Regions from separate parts of the Homo sapiens genome. Here all the other regions are linked to region 1. The links come from fine-mapping of genetic effects on gene expression. A gene starts in region 1. Each other region holds a variant in brackets. All regions are shown on one strand. Distances are from middle to middle.

Evidence for each region. PIP is the estimated chance that this variant, and not a neighbour inherited with it, causes the effect.
Region 2: its variant is fine-mapped to the expression of SLC27A2 in esophagus mucosa (GTEx, PIP above 0.99). The same link has a PIP of 0.9 or more in sun-exposed skin and unexposed skin.
Region 3: its variant is fine-mapped to the expression of SLC27A2 in whole blood (TOPMed, PIP above 0.99). The same link has a PIP of 0.9 or more in T cells and blood mononuclear cells.

Annotation. Positions count from the first base shown.
Region 1 is chr15:50,175,586-50,186,104 of GRCh38, reverse strand. SLC27A2 (solute carrier family 27 member 2) reads right to left here and starts at 3,909. Exons shown (of 10, transcript NM_003645.4): 1 at 3,200-3,909. The coding sequence starts at 3,677. It also overlaps a transcript of ATP8B4 not described here. RefSeq lists silencers at 3,308-3,407, 3,678-4,017.
Region 2 is chr15:50,204,614-50,215,132 of GRCh38, reverse strand. It overlaps SLC27A2 (solute carrier family 27 member 2), which reads right to left. Exons shown (of 10, transcript NM_003645.4): 4 at 9,770-9,894. Among named protein-coding and RNA genes, the nearest start is that of SLC27A2, 28 kb to the right of the region's middle. RefSeq lists an enhancer at 3,797-4,376. The variant G/C (reference allele first, on the strand shown) is at 5,397.
Region 3 is chr15:50,241,283-50,251,801 of GRCh38, reverse strand. HDC (histidine decarboxylase) reads left to right here. Exons shown (of 12, transcript NM_002112.4): 10 at 3,459-3,557; 11 at 8,558-8,659; 12 at 8,796-9,855. The coding sequence ends at 9,542. It also overlaps the pseudogene RN7SL494P. Among named protein-coding and RNA genes, the nearest start is that of HDC, 19 kb to the left of the region's middle. The variant AAG/G (reference allele first, on the strand shown) is at 3,848.

The DNA.
Region 1 (10,519 bases):
GCCCAGTTAATTTTTGTATTTTTTTTTTTTGTAGAGATGGGGTTTCATCATGTTGCCCAGGCTAGTCTCGAACTTCTGGGCTCAAGTGATCCTCCCTCCTCCACTTCCCAAAGTGCTAGGATTACAGGAGTGAGCCATAGTGTCCAGCCTCAGAATGTTTTTAAAAGTAAGCTTCCGGCCAGGCGTGGTGGCTCACGCCTGTAATCCCAGCACTTTGGGAGGCCAAGGCCGGCAGATCACGAGGTCAGGAGATCAAGACCATCCTGGCTAACACGGTGAAACCCTGCCCCTACTAAAAATACAAAAAATTATCCGGGCGTGGTGGCGGGTGCCTGTAGTCCCAGCTATTCAGGAAGCTGAGGCAGGAGAATGGCGTGAACCAGGGAGGTGGAGCTTGCAGTGAGCCGAGATCACGCCACAGCAGCCTGGCCTGGGCGAAAGAGCGAGATTCCGTCTCAAAAAAAAAAAAAAAAAAAAAAAAAAGTAAGCTTCCTAGGTGATTCTTGGGCTTATTAAAGTTTCTTCTGTAAACTTTTTTTTTTAAAGTATAACACATTCATTAAACTTACAGGATTATAGGGTTAGAATATCTCTAAGGTCCCTTCCAACACCAAAGAATTCTAAGAATCAGTCCATTCAACATATTTTCCCATGGGCATGTTTAGTAAACATGCAACTCTGTGACAGACTGTAATTTTGCTTCATGTGCAAAGGTATCTCAGTGATTTGGAAAAACTGATTTTTTTTCAAATATGTGGCCTCCCTCAGAGGTCAGTTGACGGTCCAGAGAGTGCCTTAGGTCCACTGTAAAGTCTGGTTCACGTTTGAGTTTAATATAGAAATTCCCATATATTCTCTATGTAAACACATAGCTCTATGGCAGACAACTGTTAGCTGGGTGGGAAGAGGGTATCTGGTTGTAATTCTGACTTTATTGCAGAATCAAACTGTATTATGGTCATTTAATCCTGAACTTCTTTGTCAACAAAACTCCAAACCCTGTGACCTCCCTCTCAGGGGACCTGGGATACTAAAGTGATAAACAGAATTTAAATGCTTCCTGAAGTGGTACAAAGATCACTGTGTTAATAATTTCCCTCCAAGCAAGCTGGTAAAGTAATAGGCTTAGGAGAGTCTTCTAGTTACAAAGTAGTGAAGTTATCGCTTTTCTCAGGCAGCTAGAAATTAATGGGAATTTTCTTGAAAGGACCATCTCTTCCAAATAATTTAGCCACCTTTAAACTTGTCTTTTTTTTATTCTGTTTTTTGAGATGGAGTCTCACTCTGTCCCCCAGGCTGGAGTGCAGTGGCATGATCTCGGCTCACTGAAACCTCTGCCTCCTGGGTTCAGGTGATTCTCCTGCCTCAGCCTCCCAGGTAGTTGGGATTACAGGCACGCGCCACCATGCCCAGCTAATTTTTTTTTTTTTAGTCGAGACGGGGTTTTTGCTATGTTGGCCAGGCTAGTCTTGAACTCCTAACCTCAAGTGATCCACCTGCCTCGGCCTCCCAAAGTGCTGGGATTACAGGCTTGAGCCACTGCGCCCAGCCTAAAATTTGGCTTTCTGCTTTTAAACTTTTATACAAAGCCTATATTTTTTGGATTATTTATTTCATGCCACATGAAGCAGGTGTGTAAGATTCCTGGTTTCTCACAAGTGAATTAACCTTTCATCTTTCTGTAACCCGCTTAGCTTGCCTCAGTTTCCCCAGCTATGAAATGAAGGGGTAGAGCAAGTGGACACTTCATCCCTTCCAGCACACTTAACAGTTTACATCCATGCAGAGGAAAACAATAAGATGTAGGAAAGAGGCTGGGTGTGGTGGCTCACACCTGTAATCCCAGCACTTTGCGAGGCCAAGGTGGGTGGATCGCTTGATCTCAGGAGTTTGAGACCAGCCTGGGCAACATGGTGAAACCCTGTTTCTACCAAAAATAACAAAAAATTAGCTGGGCATGGTGGTGCATGCCTGTGGTCCCAGCTACTTGAGAGGCTGAGCTGGGAGGATCGCTTGAGCCTGGGAGGCAGAGGTTACAGTGAACTGAAATAGCGCCACTGCACTCCAGCCTGGGCAACAGAACGAGACTGTCAAAAAAAAAAAAAAAAAAGATGTAGGAAAGAGCATGGCTTCGAAGTTGGATAGAGCTAGGTTGGAATTTTAAGCCTCAGTTTTCTCAACTGTATAATGGTGGTGGTGGTGGTGGGGATAGTGATATGTTATCTCCCGGGGTAATAAAAGCATCTACTATAGGGCTTAGCACAGAAATGCATTCTAGAAAGCTGAGGCTCCTCGGCTCCCTCGACCCCTACCCTGTCACCCAGGTCTTTCAGCCCACTCCTGTGTAGGCCTCTTCTTACTGACTGAGAGAAGGAACCCTTGGTCCTTATTCAAGTGCAGAGACAAGCTCTCTGGGAGGGGAAAGCCATCAGCCCTGTGAGTAACAGGTTCTCTGTCACTTCCTGACCTTGTCATCACTTAAGTTACTGTTTCAAGTCTGGCTGAAATGTGGCAGGAGCTAACCACAGAACTGAAAGGGTCACTATTGTGATAGATGCAGTGGGGGCTCACAACGGTCCTGTAGCAGATCCCCAGTATCTTCTCCCTGGGGATCAGGTGGGGTCACCTTTGTTCTGCAGGGAGGGGACAGGATGCTAACAGCAGTTGAGAGCTGGAAGCAACATTGAAGCCTGCCTCATTAGAGAGGAGCAAACCAAGGGACAGAGAGGAGAAGTGACTTTCCCATGATCACACAGCCAGTCAAGCAGCAGAGGTGAGAAGAGCCCCTCTGGATCCACTAGAGTTCGCACTCAAGATCCTCTGCATTTTAATGCAGATGTTATAAGTATTGATTAAGAGCTTGGAATTTGGAGATAGATGGCTGGGCATGAGGCTTCACCTCTCAGGACCTCAGTGGTCTCATCTATAAAAGTCCTATAACAAAGCCTACCCATTGTGAGGATTAAAAACCACACTGCCTGTAGAGTGCTTAACACAGAACCTAGCACATTATCAGCTTCCACAACAGGTGGTCCTAAAAGATCATTATTTGCGATTCAAGGAAACACTGCCAACCTTTTTCTATACCTACAGTTCCGATCTGAACCTCCCTCTGCGAACCCCTTATGCCACGCTGTGGCTCGTCAGTCAAGGCGCCGAGAAGCCCTGGTGCCAGGGCAGGGCGATCCTCGGGGCTCACCTGGCGACACCAGCAGCACCTTCGCCCCGCAGCACTGGAAGCAGTGCAGCAGGGACTTCGCGCGGATGTTGTAATTGAGGCACGCCATGGCACAGCCCAGCTTCACCAGCCCCAGCCACAGCCACACGTAGGCCGGCTCGTTACCCATAAGGAGCGCCACGCAGTCTCCCTGGCGCAGGCCGAGGTGGTCGTGCAGCGCCCGGGCCACTTGATTGCTGCGCCGGTCCACCTGCGCGTAGGTGAGAGTCTCGTCGCGGAAGAGCAGAAAAGGCTTGTGTGGCGTCTGGCGCGCTTTCTCCAGGAACGCCCGCAGGATGGTGCGCGCCGGCCGCCGCTTCCCGTAGCTGCGCACCCTCCGGCCCACGGCGGCCACCTTCAAGAAGTAGCCTATGTCCTGGAAGAAGTATGGGCAGCAGAGGTTCACCAGGAGCGGCAGGAACAGCAGTCCCGCCAGGACTGTGTAGATGGCGGAAAGCATGACGGCTGCGGGGCCCTCTGTCCCAGCGAGGGCAGAGGGTTCACCCCGGGCGTGCAGCGCGGCGACTGGGCGGGCTCCGGGCGGACTGGCGGGCTGCGCCGGGGCGCACGCGGCGGGACGCCGGGCTCGCGTGAGATGAAGGGGAAGACAGAGCTCCTCCGCTGCAGGTACCGCCGCGGGCTCCGGAGCAGGTGTAGTCGTATGCGCGTTGCCGGGGGTTCCGGGCAGGACTGGCCGGCTGAGCCCGCCCCCTTGTGGGGGGCAGCCACCTGCTCTCCCGGCCCTCCCACGCGGTCCTCCCGGGGCTGGGCAGGCTGCCCTGCGGCTCACCAGGAGCCTCGGCCACTTCCCAGCTCGAGTCTGGAGGTCTGGGGTCAAGTCTGGACCTCCTCGCGTTGTGACCGAAGTACTTTACCTCTAGGAGCCACGGTTTCTTTAAATGGTGATGAGACGCGCTTAGCGGACGTTGGGAATATTAAAGGAGATATTGCAGGCGTGGGGCTATTATTTGTTACCACTAATAGAATGGCTTATGGAGATGACACTGTTATTACCGATAAAGTGCCTTATAAATGTCAGACAGTCCTATTATTTATTAATAGCGGGTACCAGGTGCCACTGCCAAACCAGAATCTCATCTCTCCTTCCTGGTCCCAAGGGCTTTCCGCCTGGTCTCTCTTTGTTTCTCAGATTTGCTTCCCAGCCCGACTGCCAGGCGGTCTCCTGTAGCGAAGGCTTCAAGGTTGAACAGAAATGCCTGTGGCAGTCACGTCCAGCTCATCCCAAGCCCTGCCAGGTGAGTGAGGGCAGGACACTCTAACCTAGTCGGCCCTGCCTGGTCGGGGGAGTCCTGATTTCGTGAAGAGCAGTGCTACACCGCACCACCTGAAATCAAGCTTTGACATTATTTTACGATTTTGTTCTGTTAAGTGATCCTGCTGTTCCCTCATGTTGAAAGTTGTCAAGTGTTGTCAGCACAGTTCACACATTTAATAAGTGGCTCTGTCAGAGAATAGTATAGTACAGAGGACATTGAGTAAGTGGTATTGGCATGACTCAAAAACCATTTCTTTTAGAGGAAATGTGAACCTTTCTTTTAATTTGCCTTAGTGCTACTTCTGTACGAAGTGAATGCTCACTACTTGCCACTGAGGAGGGTCAGGATCTAAGTAGTGTTTTATTTTCATCCTCTACTGTCCTCCTGTGTTCCTCTATCTTAATTTGATACGATAAATACAGATAATGCTTATTCCTCCCAGACACGCTGCTAGGAGCTTCCCTATGTTACATTTTGGGAGCCTGAGTTATTTTATACAGGTGGCACTTTCATGCTCATTTACAGACAAGAAAGGGAAGCTTAGGTGAATTGAGACAGCCGGTAAGTAATTCGTGGGTTTTGGAAATGGTATCTGTTTGGTCCCGGGGAACCAACTCTTAGCTTATTCTTAGTAACTATACTATGCTGTCCTCCTATTCTCTAGGTTTCTGTCCATGTCCTCTTTTTTTTTCGGTGTGTGTAAAACACACAAAAATGTTTCACATTCCCTCCAGGCCACCCCCTGCCGTTTTTTAGCCTCCTTTTCGTATCCCTAGTAACTGCGCAAGCAACCTTTCCCTTTTCCTGACTTTTTCATTTCTGATCCAGCTACCTGGTTGCATCATTTCCCTGGGGATGAGCTGGGGGCCTTCATCATCCCTGAGGAGAAAGCAGTAGAATTAACCAAAGTGAGGGCCCGACAGAAACCATTCTCATGTGCACTTCTTTCATGGTGAAGCTCAGAGCCAGCCCTTCCTTTTTCATCCCAATGCCACCCTCGTCCCTTGATGGCTAATCGCTTCTGTGTAGCCACCTGCACCCCTCTTCTCTTTTCCTTGAACAGCTACTGTCTACCCAGAGTGCTAGATTACCACAAGGGTCCACTTTTTCCCCTCTTATTCTGAGGATCACTTTAACCTCAGTTACAAGTAAAAGAAAACAAGACCCAAGCTAGCTGAAGCAGAAACAGGAATTTAAGTAGTAACTGGAGAGTCCGGGGCTAAGACATCAAGGATTTTAAATGCTGACACCTGGATCTAGTTTTGCTTTCACTATTTCTCCTCTGCACCTCCTCTGTTCTCATTCAGGCTCTCTGGTTTTTGTCCAAAGATGGCTGCCAACAGCCCTTAGGGGTACATGCTTTCTGGCTCAACTTCAGAGAGAAGTACAGGAATCTTTTTCTTAGGAGTTCTCATAAAAAAAAAAATCCCTGACTGGATTATGCGCCCATTTCTGAACCAATGTCTGTGGGTCCTGGGGAAAAAGGTGCTAGTTGTTTTAAGCCAATCAGCGCTCACCCATGGGGGTGAGAGTATAATCAATTTCACCTAGGCCATTTTGTGGAACGTTTTACGGTATTATTAAAAAGTGGGGTTAGGGAGAGTAAATTTGGGGAAGTAATTTTCAAATGTCTATAATATATACCTTGGGAGTCCCAGTGATTCCAGCTTTGAGCCTGGGATCCAGCTCTTGCTTTATCACGAGGTTAATAGATGTCTTAGTCTGTTTGGGCTGCTATAACAAAATACTGTAAGCTGGGTAGTTTATAAACAACAGAAATTTATTTCTCAGACTTCTGGAGGCAAGTCTAAGATCAAGGTGCCAGCAGATGTGGTGTTTGGTGAAGGGCTACTTTCTCACAGATGGTGCCTTCTCACTGTGTACTGTTTGGTAGAAGGGACAAATTACCTCTCTGGGGCCTGTTTTATGAGGGCACTAATCCCATTCATGAGGGCTCTGCCCTATGATCAAATTACTCCCCAAAGGCTCTACCTCCTAATACCATCACATTGAGGGTTAGGATTTCAATATATGAATTTTGTAGGGGACATGAACATTAAAACCACAGCAATAGTCTTCCTGGAAATATTGCTGCCATCTTATATCTCCACTGCTCAATTATCTTTAGTGGTTCCCCATTGCTTCCTATTGTCTTCCACCAATGACATCTATAGACAGTTGTACTTGTACAGCATACTAGAACATACCTGGCCTAGAGTTGACCAGATGCCCTGGCTTCTGCCTGACTCCTTTGAAAGGTGATCGATAGCTTAGCACGTTGGCTGCCCATTCTTGGTACATCTCTTGGGAACCTCTGGTCTATAAAATGAAATTTAAACTTTATTTTCTGGCTCTTCTGAATCTCACTCAAGCTTTCACTACACTCAATTGACAAATATTTATTGAGTTTCTGCTATGAACCAAACATTATTAGGTATTAAATATTTTAAAATGGACCAAAACTTAATTCTAACTGTTCCTTTTCAAGCGCACTTTGTTTTTAGCAAGTCTGGTCTGCACACTCCTAAAAATGCCCTGCACCTTCCTCTTTCTACTGGCTTGTTCTTACCACTTTCCACCCCTGACCATCCTAACCCTGTAAATCTCAACTCTCCTTTAGGGCAGTAGTTGTTTGATTCCTGAATTTCTTAGTCCCGTGTTATATTTCGAAACCAAGTTAGGGACTCAAAATAAGTAACGACTTCTTAATTTTTCTAGTAAGAACAACCCCCTCCCCCATCACAGTATATTTGTTATTTTATAGAAGAATGACATTTTTGGCACTAAAAAAGTATACCTGAACTGTACACTTAAAAATGGTTAAAATAGTTAATTTTTATGTTATGCATATTTTACCACAATTTTAAAGACAGTAACAATAAACATATAGCCCTTTCCAAGAAAAGACGAAGACAATGTTACACCAACACATAAAAAGTACAGAAATTATCCAAGTGTGGGGGCATGCACCTGTAATTCCAGCTACTCGGGAGACTGAGGCAGGAGGATCACTTGAGGCCAGGAGTTCAAGACTGGACTGGGCAACACAGTGAGACCCCATCTCATATGAAAAACAAAACAAAATAATCTTACAAATTCTCACAAACAGATAAAAATAAAAACATTAAAAATATTTTTGAATGTAGAAAACTGCAACTTTTGTCTGGGTTTTTATACCATATAGAAATTGTTTTTATACAAGTTTGTCTATTCAGTAACATAAATTCCACAGGGAAATATGAAATAGAGCCAGATCTTGGACTTTGATGTAATTTAGGATTTTGTCAGCACTGAGATCTCAGACATGGAGATTCTCCGTCCCCATAGGCTTAGTTAAGCCTCCTCATTCCACTTCTCCCATTCTCTGACATTACTGAGCCTATTCATTTCCTCTATCAAGATTTCGGTCCCTTCCTGGCCAGTCACTTCAACGTGGCCTCCTAGACCCCTCTTTTCCTTAAACTTTCTATCCAGGTATAGATGACCTCAAATGCCCACTGTCTTCTGTCCTATTCTAGGTATTGCAGGAGAAGTTTAGGGGCAAGACAGGATTACTGGGTGTGCATACTGACACCTTCTAGCCTTGGTCAGGACGTTCATCCCTATCATCTATCTCTGCTATTTGAGAGAAGGCTTCCTATTGGCAGTCCCAGACCTTCCCTACCCCCTTCAAAGTTTCCAATCCCAATCTCAAATGTTCTTTTAAAGCAGGTGGCGTCCCTTCCTACTTTATGGAGATGAAGTAGTTCACTATTTCTCAAACTTTACAAGTCTGAGAATCACCTGGGGAACATGCTAAAATATAGTTTATTAAGCCCCATCTCCAAAATTTCTGATTCAAAGAATTCACATCTCTAAGAAGTTACCAGGTATTGCTGACACTGCTAGTCCAGGGACTATACTTTGAGAACTACTGATTTAGTCCATTGGCTTCCAAACTACTCGGTAGAGCCCTAGTGGCTGAGAAGTTACTGAGGAGAGTTCATTGCATAGAGTGGGAAAGGGGCTCTGGGAGGATCCTACCCTAGCTCCAATCAAAACAGCTCATATACTTGTTTTACACTTCCATGTAGAGTTCATGTGAAAAAAAGTATTCCCAAACATTTTCCTTTAAATCTTCCAGCCCATGCTGATCCAGCCCTTGTACTGAACTTATAAACCCATCGCATAGGTGGGCTTTTGATTGTTTCTTACCTGTTAGTTTTGCCTTCGTAACTAGAATTCAATTTCCTGGAATGAAGTAATAGAAAAGATTGTGAGACTTGAAGCCAGAAGACCTGATTTTGAGTCTTTATCTGTCATGCATTGGCTGAGTAGCTTTGAGAAGTGTACTGAGCTCTCACAGTGACTTGTGTTAATTTTGTAGAATTTGAGGCACCTAATGCACAGGGCCATTCTTGACAAAAAAGTATAGATTATGAAGCTTGCAATTTTTGTGACATTACATACTTGGTACAAATAGAAATTTTGTGTGACTGACTCATTCAGTGGTTTGTGGGAAGAATAATCTCTGACTGTTGTTGCCATAAGTTAATCACATTTCTTGAAATGTGGGTGCCTGTCATCCTATTGACTGTCTAGCATGGTACCATTTGAGTATAGGCATACAGGATGTGCAGGTATTCAGCCAACAAAATGGCAAGGGTTTGATGGAGGTGGTATGTGATAAGATTGACCCTCTTTTTGGAGAATGAAAAAAAGGTGAGACTGAGAACAACTGATTATTGATATTAGACATGACAGAGCAGGAAACCCTTGCATTGGCATCCCAGTTGTGCTTGCTACACAGTCAGGACAATTTATAATTTGAGAAAAAGATGTTTGCCCTCTTTAGTTCTGACCAGAATGTCTTTGATTAGGTGTTGAATTCTAACTCAGGGAAAACTCCTGATGAAATCATCATTGTTTCTAGTGCTAATATGTGTGCTAATTCTCCAGATTTGGTTTGTATTTTTTCAACAGCTTTCTCTCTCTTCTTTCAATATCCCACTGCAACACACATACTCTCCATCCCAGTCACAATGTACTCTTTTTTGGATTTTATTATTTATTTTGTTTTTTATTTTTTAATTTAATTTAAAAAATATTTTATTTTTCCATAAGTTATTGGGGTACAGGTGGTATCTGGTTACATGAGCAAGTTCTTTAATGGTGATTTGTGAGATTTTGGTGCACCCATGACCTGAGCAGTATACACTGCACCAGATTTGTAGTCTTTTATCCCTTGCCCTCCTTCTACTCTTCCCAAGTCCCCAAAGTCCATTGTATTATTCTTATGCCTTTGCATCCTCACAGCTTAGCTCCCACATGTCAGTGAGAACATACGATGTTTGGCTTTCCAATTCTGAGTTGCATCACTTAGAATAATAGTCTCTAATCTCATTCAGGTCACTGCAAATGCTGTTAATTCATTCCTTTTTATGGTTGTGTAGTATTCCATTGTGTGTGTATATATACACAATGTTTATATATAGTGTATATATATATGCTGTGCAGTATATATATATACACACTATATATATACTCTGTGGTATATATATATATATACTCTGCGGTATATATATACACTCTCTCTATACTATGATATATATATACTGCGATACATATGTACACACTATATATATCACAGTATCTTTAACCACTCATTGATTGATGGGCATTTGGCTTGGTTCCATGATTTTGCAATTGTAAATTGTGCTGCTATAAACATGCGTGTGCAAGTATCTTTTTTGAGTAATGACTTCTTTTCCTTTGGGTAGATACCCAGCAGTGGGATTGCTGGATCAAATCGTAGTTCTACTTTTAGTTCTTTAAGGGATCGCCACACTGTTTTCCATAGTGGCTGTACTAGTTTACATTCCCACTAGCAGTGTAGAAGAGTTTCTTGTTTACCACATCCATGCCAACATCTACGGTTTTTTGATTTTTTAATTATGGCCATTCTTGCAGGAGTGAGGTGGTATCACATTGAAGTTTTGATTTGTATTTCCTTGATCATTAGTGATGTTGAGCATTTTTTAATATG
Region 2 (10,519 bases), 29 kb before region 1:
TCTTGTATCTGGAAACTATGCTGAATTCTTTTATCAGTCCTAGGAACTTTCTAGAGGAGTCCTTAAGAGTTTTCAAGGTAAATGATCATATCGTCAGCAAGCAGTGACAGTTTGACTTCCTCTTTACTGATTTGGATGCCCTGTATTTCTTTCTCTTGTCTGATTGGTCTAGCTAGGACTTCCAGTACTATGTTAAAGAGGAGTGGTGAGAATGGGCATCCTTGTCTTGTTCCAGTTCTCAGGGGGAATGCTTTCAACTTTTCCCCATTCAGTATTATGTTGGCAGTGGGTTTATTATAGATGGGTTTTATTACTTTAAGGTATGTCCCTTGTATGCCGATTTTGCTGAGAGTTTTAATCATAAAGAGATGCTGGATTTTGTTGAATGCTTTTTCTGCACCTATTGAGATTATCATGTGATTTTTTACATTTTGTTTATGTGTTGTATCACATTTATTGACTTGCATATGTGAAACCATCCCTGCATCCCTGGCATGAAACCCACTTGATCATGGTGGATTATCTTTTTGATATGTTGTTGGATTTGGCTAGCTAGTATTTTGTTAAGGATTTTAGCATCTGTGTTCATGAAGGATATTGGTCTGCAGTTTTCTTTTTTGGTTATGTCCTTTCTGGTTTTGGTATTAGGGTGATTCTGGCTCTATGGAATGAATTAGGGAGGGTTCCTTCTTTCTCTATCTTGTGGAATAGTGTCAAAAGAATTGGTACCAATTCTTCTTTGAACATCTGGTAGAATACTGCTGTGAATCCATCTGGTCCTGGACTTTTTTTTGTCGGTAATTTTTAAATTACCATTTCAATCTTCCTGCTTGTTATTGGTCTGTTCCAGGGTATCTAATTCTGATTTAATCTGATTTAAGCCAGGAGGGTTGTATTTTTTCCAGGAATGTATCTAGCTCTTCTAGGTTTTCTAGTTTATGTGCGTAAGGGTGTTCATAGTAGCCTTGAATGATCTTTTGTATTTCAGTGGTGTTAGTTGTAATATCTCCTGTTTTGTTTCTTAGTGAGGTTATTTGGATTTTTTCTCTTCTTTTCTTGGTTAATCTTACTAATGGTCTATCAATTTTATCTTTTCAAAGAACCAGCTTTTTGTTTCATTTATCTTTTTTTTTGTTTGTTTGTTTGTTTCAATTTCATTTAGTTCTGCTCTGATCTTGGTTATTTCCCTTCTTCTGCTGGGTTTGGGTTTGGTTTGTTCTTGTTTCTCTAGTTTCTTGAGGTGTGACCTTAGATTGTCTGTTTGTGCTCTTTCAGTGTTTTTGTTACAGGCGTTTAGGGCTATGAAGATTCCTCTTAGCACCGCCTTTGTTGTATCCCAGAGGTTTTGATGGGTTGTGTCATTATTGTCGTTCAGTTTGAAGAATTTTTTCATTTCTGTCTTGATTTTGTTTTTGACCCAATGCTCATTCAGGAGCAGGTTATTTAATTTCCCTGTATTTGCATGGTTTTGAAGGTTCCTTTGGAGTTAATTTCCAGTTTTATTCCACTGTGGTCTGAGACAGTGCTGGATATAATTTCAATTTTCTTAAATTTATTGAAGTTCATTTTATGGGCCACCATGTGGTCTATCTTGGTGAAAGTTAGAAAGTTATGCGCTGTTGAATAGAATGTGTATTCTGCTGCTGTTGGATGAAATGTTCTGTATATATCTGTTAAGTCCATTTGTTCCAAAGTATAGTTTAAATCCATTGTTTCTTTGTTGACTTTCTGTCTTGATGACCTGTCTAGTGCTGTCAGTGGAGTATTGAAGTCCCCCACTGTTATTGTGTTGCTGTCTATCTTATTTCTTAGGTCTAGTAGCAATTGCTTTATAAATTTGGGAGCTCCAGTGTTAGGTGCATATATATTTAGGATTGTGATATTTTCCTGCTGGACAAGGCCTTTTACAATTCTATACTGTCTCTGTTTGTCTCTTTTAACCACTGTTGCTTTAAAGTTTGTTTTGTCTGATATAGGAATAGCTACCTCTGCTCACTTTTCATGTCCTTTCACATGAAATGCCTTTTTCTACCTGTTTACTTTAAGTTTATGTGAGTCCTTATGTGCTAGGTGAGTCTCCTGAAGGCAGCAGTTGGTTGGTGAGTTCTTATCCATTCTGCAGTTCTGTATCTTTTAAGTGGAGCATTTAGGCCATTTACATTCAATGTTAGTATTGAAATGTGAGGTACTGTTGCTTTCATCATGCTCTTTGTTGCCTGTGAACTTTTGTTTTTTTGTTGTTTGCTTTTTCACTTGTATTCTTGTTTTATAGGTCTTGTGTGATTTATACTGTAAAGAGGTTGTGTTATGATGTGTTTGCAGGATTTGTTTCAAGATTTAGAGCTTCTTTTAGCAGGTCTTGTAGTGGTAACGTGGTAATGGCGAATTCTCTCAGCATTTGTTTGTCTGAAAACGACTGTATCTTTTCTTCATATATGATGCTTAGTTTTGCTGGATACAAAATTCTTGGCTTACACTTGTTTTGTTTGAGGTGGTTGAAGATAGGGCCCCAATCCCTTCTAGCTTGTAGGGTTTCTGCTGAGAAATCTGTTAATCTAATAGGTTTTCCTTTGTAGGTCACCAGGTGTTTCTGTCTCACAGCTCTTAAGATTCTTTCCTTGGTCTTAACTTTGGATAACCTGATGACAATGTGCCTAGGCAAAGATCTTTATGTGATGAATTTCCCAGGTGTTCTTTGTGCTTCATGTATTTGCATGTCTAGGTCTAGCAAGGCTTGGAAGTTTTCCTCAATTATTCACCCAAATATGTTTTTCAAGTGTTTAGAATTGTCTTCTTCCTCAGGAACATCAAGTATTCTTAGGTTTGGTCTTTTAATCCTAGACTTCTTGGAGGCTTTGTTCATATTTCCTTATTATTTTTTCTTTGTCTTTATTTATTGGGTTAATTCAAAGACCTTGACTTCGAGCTCTGAATTTCTTTCTTCTACTTGTTCAATTCTATTGCTGAGACTTTCCAGAGCATTTAGCATTTCTAAAAGTGTGTCCAAAGTTTCCTGAATTTTTGCTTGTTTTTTTCATTTACTTTTTTTTTTTTTTTTTTTTGAGACAGAGTCTCACTCTGTCTCCCAGGCTGGAGTGCAGTGGCGCGATCTTGGCTCACTGCAAGCTCTGCCTCCCAGGTTCATGCCATTCTCCTGCCTCAGCCTCCCGAGTAGCTGGGACTACAGGTGCCTGCCACCACTCCAGCTAATTTTTTTGTATTTTTAGTAGAGAAGGGGTTTCACTGTGTTAGCCAGGATGGTCTCAATCTCCCGACCTTGTGATCTGCCTGCCTCAGCCTCCCAAAGTGCTGGGATTACAGGCTTCAGCCACCATGCCTGGCCCTGTTTTTTTCTTTAAGCTATCTATTTGCTTGAATATTTCTCCTTTCACTCTTGTAACGTTTTTTTGGATTTCCTTGCATTGGGCTTCATATTTCTCTGGTTCCTCCCTGATTAGCTTAATAACTAACCTCCTGAATTATTTTTCAGGCAAATCAGGGATTTCTTCTTGGTTTGGATTCGTTGCTGGTGAACTAGTGTGATCTTTTGGGGATGTTGATGAGCCTTGGCTTTTCATATTAGCAGGGTTGGTTTTCTGATTCCTTCTCATTTGGGTAGGCTCTGTCAGATGGAAGGTCTAGGGCTGAAGGGTGTTGTTCAGAATTTTGTCCCATGGGGTGTTCCTTTGATGTAATACTCTCCCCCTTTTCCTATGGATGTGGCTCCTGTGAGCCGAACTGCAGTGATTGTTGTCTCTCTTCTGGGTCTAGCCACCCAGCAAGTCTACCTGGCTCTGGGCTGGTACTGGGGGTTGTCTGAACAGAGTCCTGTGATGTGAATGATTTATGGGTCTCTCAGCCATGGATACCAGCACCTGTTCCAGTGGAAGTGGCAGAGGATGCAATGACTCCATGGGATCCTTAACTTTGGTGGTTTAATTCCCTGTTTTGTGCTGTTGGCCTCCTGCCAGGAGGTGGTACTTTCCAGAAAGCATCAGCTGTAATAGTGTGGACAGGCACCAGCAGTGGGCAGGGCCCTAGAATTCCTAAGATTATATGTTCTTTGTCCTCTGATACCAAGGTGGATAGGGAAGGACCATCAGGTGGGGCCAGGGCTAGGCCTGTCTGAGCTCAGACTCTCCTTGGTCAGGTCTTGCTGTGGCTGCTGTGGGGGATGGGGGCGAGATTCCCAGGTCACTGGAGTTGTGTACCTAAGAGGATTATGGCTGTCTCTGCTGAGTCATGCAGGTTGTCAGGGAAGTGGGGGAAAGTTGGCAGTCACAGGCCTCACCCAGCTTCCAGGCAACCTGAAGGGCTGGTCTCACTCCCACCGTGCCCCCTCAACGGCCCCGAGTCTGTTTCCAGGTGGAGGGCGAGTCAGGCTTGAAAACTTGCCCAAGGCTTTCTGCCTCCCAGCTGTTAAAGAAAGGGCTTTAGTTCTTCTCCGCCTGTGGAGTCTGCAAGCCAGATTCACACCCTCCCTGGAGTTCTGGCCAGGAGTCTTCTTGCCCCGTTCAAATTATCCCAAAGTTTAGCTAGAGAATTCCTTCTCCCTGTGGAGTTTTGCCCCCTGCTCCTCTGGCCACCCTCCTGATGGATCCCTGTGGTGCCAGGCGGGAATGGGCTGCTAGGGGAGCCAGTGAGCTCCCAGGGCCTTTCTGCAGCTTCCTCTACCTTTGTATTTTGCTCGGTTTGGCTCTCTAACTTGACGAGGCTCCAGGTAAAGTCGGGAAGTTCTACAAACAGACCTTCAGCTTCTCCAGTATGTGTTCGGGAGATGAGGGTCTCCCTTTCCCACTTCTGCAGTTGGGGCGATCACAGTATTTGGGGTGTCTCCCGGGTCCTCTAGGAGCAATCCACTTCTTTCAGAGGGTCTGTGGGTCCTCTTGGGGTTGCTGGTTAGTTCTTGCAGTCAAGCTGGAGCTAAAATTCACAATGTGAGCCTCTCATGCTGCTCTGTCTGGAGCCACAATCTAGTCCTGCCTCCCGCTCGCCATGATCCTGTCCTCCGTATTTTACTTCTTACACAGATTTTCAAATAACTCCCCTGTTTTAAGTCTGACACTTCATCCCACCTTCAGCTGTATTCAAAGCCTGCAATTTCTCAGCCTTCAGGAAGGCAACTGGCTTCCTTCCTGTTGGGACTTGCCTCTTAAGTTTCACCCTTCTCAGCCTACTATGTCAGTCACTGTTATCTTTTAGCTTCCTATACTATGTAGTTCATGGTTGCAATGTCTCTTAGTTTCTGAGATGATGGTGCTTGTGTGTGTTTTTCTCATCGCCTTGTTTTGGGGTGACTTCCAAGAGGTGAAAGGGAAGAAGGTCTTTATCACCTTAGAAAAACTCCAGAGTCCCTGTTCTTAATAATTAATATGTTACACTTCTGCCTGGACAAG[G/C]CTCCACCTGTTTGCTTTACAGAAGAGGCCCTTCATCCTTCTGTGTATTCTCACATCGTAGCCAAAAGGACTGTCTAAAAATGCCATCTCCCACATTGCTCTTCCATGTAAGGCCCTTTAGTCATGGCTTGTCATGTTCACATTTGAGTCTCAGCAGAGTAAAGCCCTTGCCACCTGACCCAGCCCCTCAGCTTCACCTCCTGCCAGACTGCTTGCAGTTCCCAGTGTGCTGGGTCCTTCATCTCACTGCTCACGTGATTTTCCTGCTAGCCAGAAGCCCTTCTTTTCTTGCCTGGCTGCAGAACTTCTCCGTACTCTTCAAAGCCCACCTTCCCTGGCGAACCTTCCTGATTCTGCTCCCCTTCCCTCTTTCTTTTGGCCTCCCTCTGTCTTGGGCCCCAGTCATATTGGCCACTCTCCACTCTGTGCTGCAACAGATCCATCCATTCTCTTTTTTGAACAGAATGAAGCTGATGCAGAGACAGAAATTTTAGGCTAGAAGGGACCACAGAGGTTATCTAATTCTGGGGGGACGCAGTCAACACTAGAGGTAAGTTGAATCTATTCAGCTTTTTCAGGGTTCTGGCCAATATTATTTCTCCTTCCAAATATCATGGTTCTATGTGTGGCCCCTGGAACTCTTTTTTGGTTCCCTTTCTGTCTTCCTCCTCCCACACTCCAGCAGGTGTCATAAAGCCTCATTGAGACCCCTGTACTGGAGCCTTGTCCAGTACAGACTGTAGCTTCAGTCTGTAACTGGAGGAAAGAAACACTGAGCTTTAGCAATATCATGCTCCAATAAATAACTTTCCCTAGATGACATTGTTTTTAGGCAACTACAAAAACCGAATGGGAGCTGACAACCATACACTGCAAGAAATGAATCAGAATGGCCTTTCATTACAAACAGTCGCTTTGAAAGCAAAGGCCCAAATACAATGCGGGAAGACGGCAAAATAGAAAATATTCACTATAATATTTTAAAAATCACTTAAGTCAGTAGCTTTGCTATCCCATCCCCTACTCAACCTCAGATGAGAGTGATTAACTAAGTAGAATGTTTTCCCTTATTTCTTCCTTTGTGTAAGTGGGCAGAATTTTCATTGATTCATTCAACAAATATGTATGGGGTACTTATTATGAGCTACACACTGTTAGGCATGGAAAGTGATAATGATAATAATGGCAACATGTGTTGAGAATTTACTAAGTTCCAGCTACTATGTGGTTTATATATATCATCTCAGGTTGTCTTCATAGACCCCATGTGAGGTAGGTACTATTATCTCCTTGTTGGCTGACGGGAAGCTGAGATTTAGAGAGGTTAACTATCCTGCTCCAATGCCAGAGTCAGAATGCAGGCCGACTAACTCCAGAGTACTTGCTCTCAGCATTACTTTAAGTACCTGGGGCCAAATCTGAACCACTGACCTGAGCAGGGCTGGAAGCATTCTCCATAGCCCACTGCTCTACTAGAGAAGCTACTGAATATGGTTAAGAAGAGGGCAGAGAAGCACAGTGGCTTCTACCTCCCAACACTGGCCCCAGATTCTCCTGATGAGCTGGGCCATATATGTCTGTGGATGGGTGTCACTTGGTTTAGCTGTTCTGCTAAGGCAGAGGTTGCCTCCCTGGCATCCAGTGCTTGGGGGTCGCTGGTGGGGTTAGTCCCTCCAGCAACAGCGTATTCTAGGCAGCTCTAAGGGTGAAGAAGTTCCTGATTACATTGATCCAGGCCCTTCCCCCATTCATTCTAGTTTTTATCCAATTCTTTTTTTTTTTTTGCAAAGTCTTTTTGATATAATCTTTCCCTACATCCCATACAATCTGTACTTTCTACTTCCTATGATGACCTATGATTAAATTTAAAAAAATTTGCATAGATCTCCTGCTTGTCTAATGACATATGATTGTTTTCTTTCTTTCTTTCCTTTTTTTTTTTTTTTTGAGACAGGGTCTTGTTCTGTCGCCCAGGCTTGAGTGCAGTGGTGCAATCTTGGCTCACAGCAACATCTGCCTCCTGCTTTCAAGCGACTCTCCTGCTTCAGCCTCCTGAGTAGTTGGGATTACAGGCACGTGCCAACAAGCCCCGCTAATTTTTGTATTTTTAGTAGAGACTGGGTTTCTCCATGTTGGCCAGGCTGGTCTTGAACTCCTGACCTTGAATGATCTGCCCGCCTCTACCTCCCAAAGTGTTGGGATTAGAGGCATGAGCCACCGTGCCTGGACTGATGACCTATAATTTAAAAAAATCTTTAACTGAAGGTTTTTTTTTGAGATAACTTTGATCTTTTATTATACTTTTTATAAATATTTTCCAAACAGAACTCAGGGGTGGGGAAGCACTGGCAAATAGGAAGTCCAGGGGTCATTCAAGATTATGCATTAAATCATAGTATATTTTGAAGTTGTAAAACCCCAGTGAAATTGTCTTTGTTTTCCAGTATTTGAGACAACAGTAAGAGAAAAACTGGGAGAGTGCATGCATGTGTGTATGTGTGCATGTGTATATGTGGATATGTGTGGGCCTGAAGACAGCTACACACAAACATATTTATTTTCGTCCAGTCCAAAGGAAGCTCCCATTAGAACATACAGAAACAACACACACTCCCCAGGAGATTTTCTAACTGACAAAGGAGTGCCTTTAAGGTAGAGAAGAAAAGCCCAGCAGAAGGGTCCCATATGGATTTCTGGATTTTAATAGAGAGACATGCTATCTTGGAGGCCACGTGGAATATTAATGTGAAAAAAATTCAATAATGACATGAACAGAACTGCTGTGGAAAATACCCTAACCCAACTCACTGCTAATGATGATCCTCGAGAATCTATTGAATATGCCAAAAAATCAGAATAATATGTGCTAAGCCCAAACATTTTGGGGAAACATTTTAGCTCCCTCAACTCAACTACACATTTTTCAGGGGCAAGGATTTAGAGGTTCAGTCCACAAAATCTGTTGATGCCTATGATGTGTCATTTACAGATCTTGGTGCCGTAGATCTGGTAGTGGACAGAGCCCCTGCTCATATGCGGCTTTCATTTAATTGGGGCGAGGGGGGGCAGACAATAATCACATAAACCTTTACTATGTCAGGAGTGACAGGTGCCATGAAATGCAGTGACAAGCTGGACAGTGAGGGGCAGATGATATGTTTGATTATTAGCAGAAGAGGCCTGTCTTCTAATGAGGCAACATCTGGGCAGAGACTGAGTAAAGTGAGGTGAGAGAGACCTGGGGGAAGAGCATCTGACACTTCTTTCTGCGTCACACGGCAGCTGGTATGTTAGGTGAGTACAACAGGTGCTTATCAATAGCAATTTATCAACTTAGTGATCCTTTGAGTTTAAACTGACTGAATAAAGGAACTAGAATCTGGTGAAAGGGATTAGAATCTGGTGAGTTTACTGCATTGTCTAGTACAGTGGTTCTCAACTAGGTTAGCATTTCCCTGCCAAGAGACATTTGGCAGTTTCTGGAGACATTTTGATGATCATGACCTGGGGAGGTGGGGAGGTTACTACTGGCATCTCGTGGGCAAAGTCCAAAGGGTGCTAAACACTCTACAATGCACAGAATAAGTCCGCGCGGCAAAGAATTAAAAGCCCAAAATGTCAGCAGTGCCACCATTGATAAATCCTATCTGATACCAGATCTCTGATGAGAGTTGAGGGACTGGGCAGGAGGAGCTCTTGAGAACAACCCCATCGAGAGCTGAACATCTGCAAACAGGGCAGATCCAAGGCCATTGGAGATGCCCTGGGGCATCTGTTCCCAGCTTGGTGACAGACTTGGCTGGCTGGTTTCAAAGTCACACAGAGATTTATTTGTTAAACAGCATTAAGTAAAAGTTTCCTGTATGCCTTCGGTATAACAGAAAACAAGGAGACAAGATGTGGTTCCAGCCATCAAAGATATTACAGCCAAGGAAGGATGGGAGACATGAACACAAACTCCTGCAACATGACAAGGGCCACAGAGGGTAGAAATAAAATGACGTAGGGGAGAAGAGTAATGACTTTTGTTGGAGTGACCCAAATATGTTTAATGTATGAGGTATCATTTGAACTGGGCTTTGACACTGGCTTTTAGTAAGCAGAGGGGGAAATGCAGGATATGCTAGGTGGGGAGTAAGATGTGAAAACAAGTAAAAAGGCAGGAAATAATCATCATCATAATAATAATATTAACTCCCACCTACTAAGTCCCCTCTATATGGTAGGTATAGTGCCAAGTACTTTATCATGATAATTGTATCCTAAACTCAAAACTGATATATGCAAATCAGTTGAAGCCTAGCACAACCCAAAGTGACTTGAATTTCCATCTTACCCATTTCAAAATGATAGTAAAACGGGGGGAGTGTTACCTGTGGTGAGTTGCATAAATACCGAAGCAGTTCACCGATATACTGAATGACAGTGACGTTGTATTTTCTGCAGTCATCCCAAAACTGGCTGGCTGAAAATTTAGTCCGCAAGGCAAGAGTAGCACCTACAGAGAAAGCACAGAAAGTGTCAAGAAAGAAATGGTGGAAAAAATTCTCCCAGTTATGTTTAATTTGTCAACTTTGAACGGTAGAAATTTAAAAATAAATTATATTTGCAAACAAGTATTGAGTACCTTATATTCAAATGCAAAAAATTAGTAAGACATGGTTTTGTTCGATAGGGGCTTCCAATCTATGGAGGAGAAGACTCATACAAAGGTCATTTTAATAAAAGTTAGCTTGCAGTAAGAGATTCAAATGAAGTCCTAAGAGGGAGGGAGGGGAGAGGGAAAGAGATTTCATGCAATATATATATATATTATATTATATATATACTAAATATATGTATAAATAGAGTGAGACTCTGTCTCAAGTATATATATATACACACATACATATATATACACACACATACATATATATTATATATATACACACACACATACATATATATGTATTTTATATATATATATTTGAGACAGAGTCTTGCTCTATTTTTTTTTCTTTTTTTGAGACAGAGTCTCGCTCTGTCACCCAGGCTGGAGTGCAGTGGTGCCATCTCGACTCACTGCAACACCCGCCCCCCAGGTTCAAGTGATTCTCCTGCCTCAGCCTCCTGAGTAGCTGGGA
Region 3 (10,519 bases), 66 kb before region 1:
GGAGAGCAGTGGCGCCATCTTGGCTCACTGCAACCTCCGCCTTCCAGGTTCAAGCGATTCTCCTGCCTCAGCTTTCCAAGTATCTGGGACTACAGGCGTGAGCCACCGCGCCCAGCAAACCTCAACTCTCTTGATTCCACATCCTCAGCCAGTATTTTGCCTGAGGGAAACGAGTTCTTAACAAATTGACTCCGCAGTTTGAGGATGAGCCCTTCCTTTACTTGTAGGGGAGACAGGGATGTAAACGAATGTATTACACATAACCTGGCCAACGGAGGCAGCAGAGCAGAGTGGGGGCAAGCTTGGTTTGGAATTCCATTCCAGCAGTGGCCCTTTGGGAAACTAACTGGACCTCTCTGAGCCTTGCTTTCCTTATCTGTAAAATGAGAATAGTGGCATTGATTCATAGGGTATTGTGAAGCTTAAATGGGAACACGTGTGGATCACCTAGCAAAATAGCCGTGTGGCAAGTGCTCAATATATGGTAGGCATAGTATTTCTGAAAGCTCTTCTTTGAAGCTGCAGAGATTTGTTAGGACAGTGGTTAGGCATGTAGGTGCTAAAGCCAGATGGCATGTGTTGGAGTCCTGGCTTTCTGTTTACTAACTTGTGTGACCTCGGGCAAGTGACTTAAACTCTGTGTCCAGATTTCCTCTTGTGTCAAATGAGGCTGATGACCACAGTTCTGGCTTCTTAGGCTTGCTGTGAGGATTATACAAATTAATACACTGAAGTGCTGAGAGCAGTGTCTGACCCCTGTAAGCATCCTTCCTTGTGAAGAGATGGTTTTATCTTATCTTCTTGGACAACTGAAGTGTCTTGCCCTTTTAGTCTTAAAATAATAGCTTCGTCATCACTTGATTATACTGGCTATTCTCCCTTGGACCAGTCCACACCCTCTTTAGATATTTGAAGCTTTTGGATTAGAATTGCAGCGGTAAGCCTCACGGCTTACTGGTGGTGACAGAAGACCCTCTAGAGGTAAAGAAAGAAAGAAAAATAATGGTTCTTTATCTCCACTGCTCTTTCTGGTAGGTTTTCAGAGATTTTTAATGAAAAATTAAAAAAATTCCAGAACAGCCCAAGGGTCAGATATCTTTAGGGATAACTGTAGGTTTGCTTCCTGAGTGTGAATTGATGCCCATTCTCCTATGAGTGTATTTGGGTCATCATAACTGAGGAGCATTATATTCACCCTTGCCCTTTTGAATTTCATGTTACCGTTTAAATTCATTTACCACAGTGCCTCAGGATCTTCCCGGGGTTCATTCCTAGGAGTTTGGAGATTTTACAGTGCTCTCTGTCTTCCAGATAACTCATAAAAATGTTAGAGTAAACTCTTCCCAGCCCTGCTCTGGGGAACCTTATTATTTTTACCTCTCCACCCAGAAGGCACTGCCTTACACTTACCCTTCCCCCACCTTTAATCCTATGGATTTGATTTTCAAGTCCATGAAGAAACTCCTAGAAAAGTGAAGTTGCTATCTTTTTCATGATCCTGAGGGTCCTCAGAGCTACTCTCACCTGGGCCCAATGTCTTTCCCACCCAGGTGGCTGCAGCTTTGAACAGAAGCTCAGTCCTGCTCTGAGATGAGCCAGAAACAGGGCAGCATCCCAGGAGAGAAGACTTAGGTGCTTAACCCCTGGGGTCCTGGAATCACCTAAAATCAGGGCTAGATTCTCTGACAGCGGAGAAGCTCCCTGTTTTCTGCCTCTCACTGGACAGAGAGCACCAGTGGAGGGAGCGTTACCTTAGCCTTGGCAAGGGAGCCCTGCAAGGACCTTACAAGGACACAGAGGAGGCTGGAGATGCCTCAAGGTAAAGAAGAGCCCTGTCAGGCTTTATACGTCCAGATTTTTTGATCCAACAGAAAATGTTGGCTAGAACCACTCTGCTGAGTCAGCATGGATCAGTTTTGGAATAGTGACAAGAAAAGGAGCAACTGGGAATAAGGAAGATTGTGAAGAAATCAAAATAAAATCACCTCTGCCTATCCTGGTTTATTTGCTGGTAAAATAAAGTAGCTCTCTCTATATATGAAATAAATTGGCTATAACTATCTGGAAACCAGAACCTTTTGACAGATGATCCCTATCATCCGTTCATTATTCTCTTGGAGTGTCCATTGGACAAGAGGTGGAGTTGACACTTTCCTTGTTACAGCAATTTTGTTCCATTTTCAGGTTTTGATGCCTTCTGCTGGCACAAAAGCCCCCAAGCTGCTCCCCAGCACAACAGAGTTTTGCTTGGAAATCAAAGGCTTAGTAGTTTTCTGCTGGGGAAACATTGTCCATCAACAAAGGGGTAACATCCCAACTGTGCCTGGCTCAGGAAACTGGGGTGAAGGGTGAAGGTGAGGACATTTGTGAGGATTTGATAATCTTGTGTATGGGCAGATAAATACGCAGTGGGACAAACATTTATTTTTAGTCAACAGAAATTGTGGTAGAAACTTTCTGACGTTTGAGGGAGATGTCATTAGGAAACCACGTGACTCATTAGAATAACTGTAAATGTTTTCCAAATCCTCTGCTCTATTTTCAGATCTGAGAAATCAGTCTGAAATTGATTTGGAAATTTTCAGATGTATGGTGACTGCAACCTTGAACTTTAAGCTCTGTTGAATTTGGCCACCAGGAGCAAAGAGTCAATTTTCATCTAACAGCGGCAGAAATTTGGGTGCTCATTTGAAATCTGACAGCTGGAGTGATGGCTCTCAGATCACAGGAATCTCACAGGAAAATGAACAAGGCAGTGTAAGGTTAAATAGGGGTCATCTTGGCTCTAGACAGAAATGCTACTGTGATTTGTAGCTCACATTTTAAAATAATCTAAATAGCCAACACCTACTGACAACTTCTTCTGAGGCTCTTGGCGTTCTTTGTCCTCACACCACTTGCCCGGGAGGTGCAATTGGTTCTTTATGTCCCGGACTGATGAGCCAGTGAGGTGGCACTACCCAAGGTCACACAGCTAGTAAGTGGCACAGCTGGAGGCGAAACCTAGGTCTGCAGGGCTCTAGTGTCTGTGCTCTAACTACCATACTTTACATTTTGGGAGGAATAAAAATAGAACTTTATTTTCTGCTATTCAAGGAATAAAGATTCATTTAGAGTAAAAATGTATTTCCCTTATGTTGAGTTTCTGGGCCGGGATGAAATGTTTAAAGCAGCACTTGAAAGCAAAGTGCCCTTCTCATTGGTTCAGGGTAATGGACTTGACTTCCACTTGTCTGGCTCTCAGACAAGTGACTATTGGCCACCTTCATCAGTGATTTGGTCACACGATGGGGCAACCCTTGGGGAGCTTGGCTTACTCCTTAGCAACAGCTCCCAGAGTCATGGTGACATCGTCCATCCCTGGAGGGCTGGGCAGGCAACAGATAATGCCCAGAAATGCCCGAGGGAGTGGGGCACCCTTGTCTCTAACCTTGGGCACTGTGTTCCTTTGTTTCTAGCACTGGCAGATCCCCCTGAGCCGACGGTTTCGCTCTGTTAAACTCTGGTTCGTGATTCGGTCCTTCGGGGTGAAGAATCTTCAAGCACATGTCAGACATGTATGTAGCATGCTGCTGTGGGGGCTGAGCCTGTGTTCCTCTGTTTTCTCATGGCGAGGAAGGCTGGTTTCTACTTTGCAGATCTGCCTAGGAGACTTGCGGTGTGTGGTTCAGGTGTCTGGGCCTGTTCCTCAGCTCCTGGGACTTGATTCTCTTTGTTAACCAGAGGAGCGCTGAGCACAACATGCCCTGAGGGCTGCCTGATGCCTGTCCTCTGCTGAGTGTCTCACCGTTCCCCTTGCTGTCACTGAGCACTGGGGAGGGTTGGCCCCAGAGTCTGGTTTGCAGGA[AAG/G]AGAAAGAGAAAGTAAATCAAGGGGAAGTGTGTGTGGCCAGGGTAGGATCCTATCTGCTTTGGAATTACCTCAATGGTCACAGCTGGCTGAATATTTTAGCACTATTATGATTATGCCTGAAATAAAGCTCCCCTGGCTTGGACAGGTAGACCTACCAAGTCTGGAACAAACCTCCCTGCATCAACAGGCATTTATTGAAGGCCTATTTTGCTTAATTTATTTCTATTCAATTCAACAATTACAAGGTATTGTGCTAAGAAAGGGACACAGAGGTAAATGAGACAGGTGCAGCCTCTCTCCCATGTTCTTCATGGAAGAAGCGGGACTTAACTAAGAACTCTGGCCACTGGCATTGTTCTCCCACTTCTACAAGAGTCCACATGCAAGACAAAGCCATTGATAAAAGTAGTGGGGGAAGCTGAAGACACTGTCCTTTCTGCCTATGTGTGTCTTTGTCCTTCCACCTTTCCTCTAGGGAATTCCTTCTTGGTTAAACAAACACAAACCAAAATGAAGTGGTGGAAGCGGTAACTATGATTTTTTTTAACATTTAAAAAAAATAATTATTATGCTTACATAATAATTACGTATATATTTATGGGGTATGTGTGAGGTTTTGATACAGGCATACAATGTGCAATGATCAAATTAGGGTAACTGGGTATCCACCACTCAACCATTTATCATTTCTTTGTGTTAGAAACATTCTAGTTCCATTCTTTAAGTTAGTTTGAAATGTACAGCAAATTATAGTTAACTATAGTTGCCTTATTGTGCCGCCTAACATTAGATCTATTTAATTGTATTTTTGCGCCCGTTAACTATCACCTCTTTATCCCCCATTCCCTGCTACCCTTCCCAGCCTCTGCCAACCATCATTCTACTGTGCGTCTCCACGAGCTCAGTTTGCTTACTTTTTAACTCCCACGTTTGAGTGAGAACATGTGAAATTTGTCCTTCTGTGCCTGGCTTATTTTGCTTAACATAATGTTCTCCAGTTTCCTATGACTGGTTTTAATGTTGGTAATTTTACCTTTGTAATCACCACTGGTTGTTTACCAATGAGCAGCTGCCACCAACAATATTGAGGAACTTTAGGCACTTTGTGCTGTTTCTAGAAATGCAGACTCAAGACTGGAGGGTTGTGGGCGGGGAATGGTTGGTGGAGGTTACAAGTAATTAGGAACATTTTTTTGCTTACAGTTTGGGACTGGATATTCAATGTGCAGATCCTGACTAACCTCCCTTAGCACTTCTGTTTGCAAATCAAACCCCTGAATTCCTCCTATTAGCAACCCCATTGCCTACCATATGAGGCCCACACTCCTGGGCCTGGCTTTCAAGGACTTGACGATTAGCTCCTACCTTAGCTTGGGCATTTCATCGACCCATCCAGACCTCATGCTCAGTCCATCTCTGCACCTTCACCCGTGTCCTTCACCTGAACTACCCTCTCCTCTCCAAATGTTGTGAATGGATTAAATTCTGCTTCCACTAGAAGCTTTTCTGCCTATTCCATCTGTTCTGGTTTCTGCTTCATTAGCATTCCTGTGATCACCTACTCAAACACCTTTACAAAACTGTGCTCAAAGTTCTTCCAATGTCCCACAATAGAAGAAATGGAATTAAAATAAAGTTGTTTGATATGATTTGATTTTATCTCTTCAACTTGACGGTGATGATAATTATTGACACTTGCGTAATGCCTTCAATACAAAAATAAATTCTAGTTCTTCATTAGATCCTTAGCACAGTGCCTGGGGTGGTCACTCTAACCTGGCAAGGCTCAGAGGGAGTAATTGCCCTGCTTGAGGGAAGAAGGCCCGGGACTTTCCCTGAAGCCTCCCAATTCCAAATCCTTTCTTCATAGTTCTGGGCTGCTTTCTACTACACTGAGCTCTTGGAAAGTTATATAAAATTAAATTTCATATTTCTGTGTTACAGAGAAGTGCTTTAAAGAATGGATTTTTAGTTCTACCCTTTACTGTTTGATGACCTTAGACAAATTACTTAACCTTTCTATATTTGTCTGCCTTATTTATTTATTGTTATTTATTTTTGAGATGAGGTCTCTGTTGCTCAGGCTGAAGTGCGGTAGTGCCATCAGAGCTCACTGCAGCCTTGACCTCCCCAGGCTCAGGTGATCCTCCCACCTCAGCCTCCTGAGTAGCTGGGACTACAGGCGCATACCATCATGCCTGGCTACTTTTTGTATTTTTTGTAGAGATGGGGTTTTGTCATGTTGCCCAGGTTGTTCTCACGCTCCTGGGCTCAAGCAATCTGCCTACCTTGGCCTCCCAAAGTGCGAGGATTACAGGCATGAGCCACCACCCCTGGCCATGCCTTCCTAATTTATAAAAATGAGAAAAGGATACTACCTCTCTCAAATTAAATGAGATAATATATATGCAGCCCTTAGCACAGGGTCTACCTACTACTCAGTTAAGTACTCAATGAGTACCTCTTCCTCTTCTCTTCTTCCCCTTCTTCATCATCTCCTTCTTCATCTAATTATAATAAATTGTCATCATCATCACCATCATCATCATCATCATCCTCATCTCCTATCACCTACAATAGGGATTGGTAAACATTTCCTGTAAAAAGCCAGATACTAAATACTTTTGGCTTTGTGGGCCATACTCTATTGTAATTACCTCTGTACTACAAGAGCTACCGTAGACAATATGTAAACAAATGGGAATGCTGTGTTCCAAAAAACTTTACAAACACAGGTGGGGGCTATATTTGGCCATGGCTGCACTGTGCCTGCCCTTGACCTAGAGCGGTGCAGGGCACTGGCAGCAGCTCTGCTTTCATGACCTGTAAAGTGGGGCTTTGGAGGTGGCAGTGCTGCCTGTGCTCTGTATTCTCCTCTCCCCTGACCTCTGCTTCTGTTATTGCAAACAGCATGTGTTGTAGGAGGGATAAAAGCACAGTGGGAGGAGATCTACCTACTGTCACTTGTACCTTGGGAAAGTCACTTTCCCTTGGTTCCTTCTAAAAAATGGAAAGATTGAGCTGGGCACAGGGGCACGTGTCTGTAGTCCCAGCTACTTGGGAGGCTGAGGTGGGAAGCTCAATTGCTCCCACCATAGCCCAGGTGGGAGTTCTGGGCTATGGTGTGCTATGCCAATTGAGTGTCCGCACTAAGTTCGGCATCAATATGGTGACCTCCCAGGAGCAAGGGATCACCAGGTTGCCTAAGGAGGGGTGAAGGGGCCCAGGTTAGAAATGGAGCAGGTCAAAACTCCTGTGCTGTTTGAAACTGACCACGCAGGGGAGAAAGGGGCTCTGAGAAAGATTTGGAGAAACTCATTTCATTATGGTCAAAAGACAGGCTCAGGGCCAGACATGGTGGCTCATGCCAGTAATCCCAGTACTTTGGGAGGCCTAGGAAGGAGGATCGCTTAAGCCCAGGAGTTTGATACCAGGGTGAACAACCTAGTGAGACCACTGTCTTTACAAAAAAATTAAAAAATGTAGCTGGGCATGGTGGTGCATGTCTGTAGTCCTAGCTACTCAGGAGGTGAAGGTGGGAGGATTACTTGAGCTCAGGAGTTCAAGGCTGCAGTGAGCTTTGATTGTGCAACATGCCTCTGTACTCTAGCCTGTGTGACAAAGCAAGACCCTATCTCTCAAAAAAAAAAAAAAAAAAAAAAAAAAGAGGTTCAGCTAACTCCCTTGCCCTCTCTTGAAATAGAGCAGTAAGTATGAGAACTAACTGATAGAATTACTTAGCAAATATTTTATTGAGATCTTCTGGATGCTTGGAGAAATTTTTAAAAAGAAAAGAGAAGGCAAGTCCTGTCCTTGTTTAGTTAGTAATCCTGGGTTAAAAACAAAAAGCAAAAAACCCCAGGACATTTAAAAAGATGGTATGAACTTCAGTGGAAGATTAATATAATACAAAGCCTTTAACATTTTAAAATTGTAACAAAATATTCATACCATAGAATGTACCATTTTACTCATTTTTAAGTGTACAATTCAGTGGCATTAAGAATACTCACAATGTGGTGTGACCATCACCATTATTTCCAGAATTTTTTCATCATCCCGAGCAGAAACTCTGTATCCATTAACCAGGTCCAAAACCTTTCCATGATGGGTGGAGACAAGATGTGAAAATATGTTCTCTATGGAATGTCAGAAACAGGGGATGAAAAGGGCATTTGGGGTACAGGGTGAGAAGAGGTTTGAGAGGCAAGTGAAGCATGTAGGCTTAGGATGGGGCAGGGCCGCCACTAGCCCATATGGCAACTTGATGTGCACTACAAACAGGCATCTCTTCCTTTAGGCACACGCAGCTCGCATGAGGCACCTGGCTGGGAACGCAGAGCATGGACTGGGTTTTGGCCCTCACTTGCCCACTTGGCCAGTCAAGGAGCTGTGAAATCAGGAGTTGAGGCCGGGTTGCCTGGACTGCAAAGCACATGCCTTCTGGGTTCTGGGGCTGAGTTGAAAGAGGGCCCTGAGATGAGTTCTCGAGGTGGATCCCATGTGACAGGAAACAGGGCGCCATTGGAAATTTTCCAGCTTGGAATATGAGCAAAATCAAATGGAGATGACAATGAGGCAGAAGCCGCTTACAACGGCTGTGACGGGAAGATGGCCCTGGTTTAAAACCATTTAGCAGTCTGAAAGTTTATGCATAGTCTCTTGTCTGATGATTAATCTCAGTTCTCTTTATACTTGCAATTCCAGGGTACTGAAATGGCTAAATATTTTGAATCTCTGGTCAGAAACGACCCTTCCTTTGAAATTCCTGCCAAGAGGCACCTTGGCCTGGTGGTTTTTCGTCTAAAGGTAATACCATCTTCCAAGCCCCTCTGTGAATGATGTCTTGTGGTGCTCCAGAGCCTCTCGGAAACACAAATGCTGGGCTCTGGGGATGCTGACAGGGGGTGCGATGGAGACTTCACTTCCTTTATTTTTCAAACAGGGTCCTAATTGTCTCACAGAAAATGTGTTAAAGGAAATAGCTAAAGCTGGCCGTCTCTTCCTCATCCCGGCCACTATCCAGGACAAGTTAATCATCCGTTTCACTGTGACATCCCAGTTTACCACTAGGGATGACATCCTGAGAGACTGGAATCTCATTCGAGATGCTGCCACTCTCATCCTGAGTCAGCACTGTACTTCCCAACCCAGCCCTCGGGTTGGGAACCTCATCTCCCAAATCAGGGGTGCCAGAGCCTGGGCCTGTGGAACGTCCCTTCAGTCTGTCAGTGGGGCAGGAGATGATCCAGTCCAGGCCAGGAAGATCATCAAGCAGCCTCAGCGTGTGGGAGCCGGTCCCATGAAAAGGGAAAATGGCCTCCATCTTGAAACCCTGCTGGACCCAGTTGATGACTGCTTTTCAGAAGAGGCCCCAGATGCCACCAAGCACAAGCTGTCCTCCTTCCTGTTCAGTTACTTGTCTGTGCAGACTAAGAAGAAGACGGTGCGCTCCCTCAGTTGCAACAGTGTGCCAGTGAGTGCTCAGAAGCCACTGCCCACAGAGGCCTCTGTGAAGAATGGGGGCTCCTCCAGGGTCAGAATCTTTTCCAGGTTTCCAGAAGACATGATGATGCTGAAGAAAAGTGCCTTCAAAAAACTCATCAAATTCTACAGCGTCCCCAGCTTTCCTGAATGCAGCTCTCAATGTGGACTCCAGCTGCCCTGTTGCCCTCTGCAGGCCATGGTTTAGACACAGGGCCTTCAGCCAGAGTCTGAGGATATACTTCAGGGACTCTGTGAACCCCTCACAATTGTATGCCAACTTTGTGTGCTTATGTGTACATGCATTTTTCTTGGGGCGAGTTCATAATTTTAATCAAATTCTCATAGGGGTTCATGACCCACAATAGGATACAAACGAAGAGTTTAAGCCAGCATGATCCAGATGGGTTCAGCAGTCTGGTCAGTGAGAAAGGGCCGAGGGTAGACAGGCAGCTTCTGTGGTTCAGCTTGTGACATGATATATAACACAGAAATAAATTATGCTTGTCCCTGAAACAAAACATACCCTGTGTCACTTAATTGGCTGCTGAAACATTGATTAACCAGTCTGGGAGCTTAAACATATGTACTTTTTTTGAAGCATCAATTATGAGTCAGGCACTGTGGCTCATGGTTCATAAATGAGGAAACCAACGTTTAGGTCACACAGCTTTAAATAGGCAAACCCAGGTCTCCTGGCTTCCAGTGAAGCCCAGGCTGTTTCCACCATGCAGTACTGCTCAAGGTTGGACCTGAACAGGAGCTCACAGCCCAGCAGGCTGCTCTGGTCCTCCAGTACATTTAAATGTTTCCTTTCTAGGTTTGGAACTTGTGCATTTTCCCCTTATTTTCCTGGACCCGGTAGTCAAATAAAAGCTATGCTCACAAGTGGCTTGCCCATAATTAGTTCAGAGGCCAAACACATAATTTTATTTCCATTTCAGATGGTACTTTGATAGGTTGTGACTCTGAAATGGGTTATGTAAAGAGTATTAAAGACAAACAAAGCTGGGCATTAGTTAGAACTTTAAGGATAGATGTTAAACAGTAATATACTATCACAATAGGGAAAAGGGTCCCATGTGAACTGAACTCAACTTGGATTTGTGCAAAGGTGACTAGGCATTTCACAGCGTGAATGGGAGAATAGGGAGAAGGCCAGCCTAGACTTAGAAGAGTCAGGAA